Linked DNA regions of Homo sapiens: region 2 is linked to region 1. A link means that fine-mapping ties the variant in region 1 to the expression of a gene that starts in the linked region. Tissue or cell type: sun-exposed skin. Region 1 holds a variant in brackets; the other region holds the start of a gene. All regions are shown on one strand. Distances are from middle to middle.

What was found. PIP is the estimated chance that this variant, and not a neighbour inherited with it, causes the effect.
Region 2: it holds the start of SUSD4, and the variant in region 1 is fine-mapped to the expression of SUSD4 in sun-exposed skin (GTEx, PIP above 0.99).

What each region holds. Positions count from the first base shown.
Region 1 is chr1:223,468,991-223,471,742 of GRCh38, forward strand. No RefSeq gene overlaps it. Among named protein-coding and RNA genes, the nearest start is that of CCDC185, 77 kb to the left of the region's middle. The variant G/A (reference allele first, on the strand shown) is at 1,573.
Region 2 is chr1:223,362,792-223,365,408 of GRCh38, forward strand. SUSD4 (sushi domain containing 4) reads right to left here and starts at 1,385. Exons shown (of 9, transcript NM_017982.4): 1 at 1,266-1,385; 2 at 487-669. The coding sequence starts at 634.

The sequences.
Region 1 (2,752 bases):
CAGCCCCTCTTCCTCCCCAGCCCTTCAACATGGCCACCAGCCAAGGATGTCTGTCTTCATTTGAGTAGACTGGAAGTTACAGAGAAAAAGAAGTGGGGAGGTGAAGACATTCCAAAGATTTAGAGCTGTGTTTCCCATACTTATTTTTCATCATCACTCCCCTAGGAACTATTTCAGACATTTTTATCTGGCTGTCAAGGTCCCAGCCTCCCATAAAGTTTCAATACCACAGATGTACTACATATCTGTTTAGGGACCATAACCCTTTGGAGGGCCACAAAACATTGGCTCTTTTTGACCCCCAAGAACTGATTTTGTCCCCTAAGGAACAATATCCCCACTGTTAAGAATGTAAGATATTGTAGAGGGGTCTCCTGGGACTCAAGGCCACAGGGGTCGTAGGCCTGAGGAAGAGGCCATAAGAAGAAGAAAACGCACTTCTGCTTCTCTCCTCCCACCCTACCTTATCTGTTTACCTGCCCAATTCTTCTCTCCGTTTCTGCAAAGTCACTTTCTTTGCAATGCAGACACATGGAGGAAACCTTGCTCGTTTCTCCCCAGTATTTACATTCACTCTGTTCAAGGATCCATCCCAAACAGAAGCTGGAATCCTTTAGCCTTGATCCCATATGCTCATGGAAGGAATTCCCCTAGCCAAGGTCAGAGACTGTGTCCACTCCTGAGACAATCAATAGGGCCAGTGGGCAGGGTCATTTTGTGCAAAAACATCTGCTAGCAATCTGTCACTGCTACCAAGTGGACAGAGAAAAGCAAGTCCTAAAGGAGGGACATGATGCTGCCTTAGAACCCAGTTCCTCCTGACACTGGTCTTTTCATAGACCCCTTCAAAACCTCACTTGGGTTTTGGCTTCGTTTCCTCCACCCACTCAGGCCTGGGCCTCTCCCAGACACCCTCAAGTCAATTCACAATCAACAGGGGCCTGGAGGGCTGTTGGCTCTGACACAAGCAGGGCCTGGTCCACGGCTGAGCTTGGCCAACTGCCTGTCTTTCCTCTCTGCTAATGGTCAGTGGCATCATGTGGATTTCATCTTCTCTCTCCAGCCCCAGCTCTGAATCTCTGATGTAAGCCATTTCCTTCTGGCAGATTCCTAAAGACCAGTCCTGACCTCTCCCAACCCACTCTGCACAGGTCCCTTACAGCCAACTGTCTTTCATGCCCAGATGTTGGGCTTGTCTTTTACCTGCATGTAACCTTTGTGCTGCCCACCAACCCGCAGCTGTCCTTGCCTTCAAAAATACAACCTGAAAGCAACTACCCTTTCCTAAAAGTTTCCCCATATCCACCCTCCATATCAGTAACACCTTTGACGCATACATATCACTCATTATCTCCTGAGGTGAACACTCTCACCTTCTCTCCTCTGCTTGACTGTCCCTCCCGAGGGGTGTCCCATGCTCAGGTGGCTCCACACGCCTGGCACCCACTGCCCTGTGGTGCTCTCCTTTTGTCCTGATTCTTTCAGGTCACCATGCTTTCCAAGGGGCCACAGCTGCAGGTAGTTTGCAGAGAATTTGAGCAAAATGTCCTCCAAGCCAGAAACTGGTGAGAC[G/A]GTAAGAAATGCCAGGAAGTACATGAACAACTCAGTTCTTTCATCCCAGAGAGGTGGTAGCTGTGCACTTCATCATATTCTGAGCTCTCAAAACCTTGATACCCCAACTTGAATGGGAAAAGTGGGCCCTTCCCAGCAGGGGTGCCGATGCTCACTTGTCTCTTAGTTTTTTATATTCAGTTTGTAGGAGCCAGTGGAAGCTAAGCAGCAGTGGGAGGTGGAAACAGATGCAGTCACCTTTAGAATTAAGTTTTAGCAAAGTAGCCCTTGCCTGCATAGCCAGGCAAAAATGGTCATGATCAGATAACAGCAAATCCTTCCTTCCACCCCAGCTTCACAAGTGCTGTCAGATTCACAGGCAGCTACGTCTTCTCATGAGGGGAGCAATAAATGGAACATGTGCAAAATGATTTTATCAAGAGCCTCTCAGATGATGGCCACAGAGGACGGGACTCCAAGATGTGAGTTGAAGCCCACCCTTAAACTTTCAATGTGAGGGCAACCCCTTCCTTGTCCTCCCAGTCTCTGCCGCATCTCCTGCCTCTGTTTCTCTCCCTTCTGCCTCTGCACACCGCCTTCGTCTGCTCTGTCTTCATCTTGGTAACCCCCCTAGGTACCTCTCAATGTGGCTACCTGGCCCTCAAAATGCCCCCTTCTCTGGGAAGACACCTAAAACTCAAGGTGAGCCCCCAGGAATTATTTCTGCCCATGTGATCTTGCCCCTGGTTGGAACTGATTGTCCCAAGGGTAGACACCTGACCCAAGTTGAGCCAGCCGGTTTCTCATGCAAATTTGAACTCAGAAAGGGAAGACACAATGAATAGTTTAGAACGTTAGTGGCAGCCCAGGAGATCCTACTGCTCTGTGTCTCAAGCTGTCTCAGTTCCTTTCTTTCCTGGGTCAGCTGGAATTATTTAACCTTACTAAACGTTTGCTTAACAGTTAGAGTCTGTCAACCAGAGACAAAAGCACTATGAAGCTAACAGAACCATTTTCTCCATGTCTGTATTCCAGATTCCCCCACAAGAGAATTGGATTGGCTCAACCTCACCTCTGGAATGGTTTCTCCTGGGCCAGTGTCCACCCCAAGGCCAATCTGCTGTGGCTGGGTGAGGGTGGGGTGCAGAGCCCCTTAGAAACTTGGCTACAGCAGCCTATCCTTAGGAGTTATTGGGGGCAG
Region 2 (2,617 bases), 110 kb before region 1:
AGTCTGACCACGTTTCCAGACCCTTCACATTCTCAAAGGTGGTTCTTAAACTCTTGCTTAAATCCAGAGGCTGAAATCTGACCTCTATCTGCTGAAGGCATTGGCAAGAGGTCCACAAATACACCACTCCCCACTGCCCCCACCCCCCACCCCTCCCCCCCCCGCCCCCGCTTCCTTGGCCAAAGTGGGAATAATGGGCCAGGCTTTATTGTCTTTCCTTGGGAGAAGCCAGGCCCGGAGGCTGGTGGGAAGCTCCAGACAGAATGTGGGTGTGTGAATCTGTGCGGGCTCCACATGGGAATTTTCAGGGAACTCCAGCGGTTTCGGAGAAGGGCGGCCATAGGCTGGGACGCAGGCACCCTCGCGTTGTCAGATCCTCCTGAAGTCTGGGTGTATGGGGGAGGGGTGCAGGGCTGTCCTGGCAGCTAGGCTCTTTCTCCCCTCTGGGCCATCCCCAGGCCCTCCCACCACAGCTGGGTCACTCACCGCCCGTGAGCTGTGCAGGGCCGAAGCACAGCGCCAGCTGAAACCACAGGATCACGGCCAAGAGTCTCTGGGGGGACTGAGGTTGCTGCTGCTGCTGCTGCTGCTCTAGAAATCCATCTCCATTGCTCGGGTTCATTCCATGATACATCTTTCATCCACAGAGGGCATCCAGCTTGCAAGAGTCTGCAACCAGAAGCGGAACACCACAATAAGCCAGTCTGTCCGGGCTCGGGGGCCACGCTCCCCCTCCTCCGCTCTGGGACCCGGCGCCTCGGCTTCCCAGGCTCCATCCTGGTTCCTCCCCCGCGCGGCCCCCGCCCCCTTTCCCACGGCGAGGTCCCCCGCCTTCCCCCGAGCCGGGTGCACTGAGTAACAGCCGCCGTGGGATGCTGCGCGTGCTGGGGGATGGAGGACAGGAGGGAGGGCAGGGGTTAGCGCACATTGGCTCCGCGCCGGTCCCCGGGATTCAGCAGCTGTGCCCACCACAGGAAAGTCTAGAGCCTCCCCGCGTCTCGGGGCCGCGAAGACACTTTTCCCTGGGCCTATACATTTCACTCTGGGAATCTCACAATGTGGCACCGTCTCCCCCAGCTACTTCTCTGGTTTTCCTCGGGATTGGGATCGATCCTACTGCCCCAGTCCCCAGTGAGATTTCTCTGCGCTGTCAAAAAAAAAAAAAAAATTCTCCCTTGGGGAGCTGCACCAGGCACCAACTCCCCCTCCCCGGCCTGCGCGCGCCTCCTCGGAATGGAAGACCCTTCCGGGACTGTCGGTCTTACCTGTGGGTCTCATGCATGCAGCTTCCTTCCCTCCTCCGCCTCCTCCCCCCGCCAGTCTAACCCGCATCTGTGCGCGACCTCTGCTGCCGCCGCTGCGCGAGCGAGCGAGACGGAAGCTTCGGCGGCGGCGCTCGGCTCCAGCTCCCCCGCCCGCGCGCTCCCTCCCCAGGCGCCCCCGAGCGGGCGGGTGTTGGGGGAGGACGGGAGCCCGGCCGCGCGCCCCCGCGGAGGCGCCCGCGCGCCCGCTACCTGAACTCGCGAGCGCGCGGCGGCGGCGGCGCGGAGAGAGGGAGTGGGTGGGGACGGGGTGAGTGGGGGGGCGGGGACGGGGCGAGGGGTGCGCGGGCGCGCGAGCACGCGCCTCTGCCAACCCAGCCGGCGCCGCGGCGTGGCCGGAGACTGGCGAGGGCGGGGACGGGGAAAGGGGCCCGCCGCCGCGACCAATGGGAAGCCCGCGCGCCTGCACCTGTCGGGGCGCGAGGCGCCGGCGGCCGGTCTTGCACACGCACGCAGCTCGGTCGCCCCTTCCCCGGCGCTGGACTGCAGCCCCTGCCCCGGCTGCGCGCCAGCTCAGGTGCCCGCCCCGGCCTCCGCGCGGCCTCTGGTGCCCCCAGCCCGCGGCGCGGCGCGGGAGAGCGCTCCGCCCTAGAACTACCGCCGCGGCGGTGGCTGCAGACCCGGGGCGAGTGCGCGGCCGGCAGCTCCCAACCCCAGAACTCTCGCCACAGACCCGGTTAACTTGAGCACCGCCAATTGCCCGAGTCTCTTAATTTCCCGCGTTAACCCCTCCCCGCTCCCATCTCCGCCGAAGCTCTGCGCGTCCCCAGGGAGCCCGAAGGACCATCTGAGGCGGCTGAGAGACACTCTCCCCCTCCCCCACACCCTTGGTATTTTCCCTCTGCCAGCCGCAGGTGTTGCGAGTGAGGACCCCTGTCCGGTCTTGGAGATGCGCGGGGCCCTCGGAGCCTTGGCCTGGGAGGCGCTCCCGGGGGCGGGGAGGCGGGGGTAGCGGGTGATTGGTGACACGCAGAAGGTTGGGTACCTGGAGGAGGGGAGGCTTCCGGGGTCGTAGATGGGAAGCCAAGGGGGTCGGTGGTAATTGCCCTCCCAGCCCCAAGTGGAGAGAGTTGGCCTGGTCGGTCCCCTGTCTCTGCGCCGATTCTGGTGTCGGAGCTCAGCCCGCAGTGGTTGCAGCTCTCACTCGCCGCCGGCTCTGATCGCCCGCGGTCGGTTTCAAGATAGGGAAGCCCACATTCCAGCCACAGTGATTAAGAGGTGTCAGCTAATGAGGTGGCGTCCACCGGCAGCGCTTTAGAGCCAGTGACACTCCATGATTCTGTAGCAATTTGTGG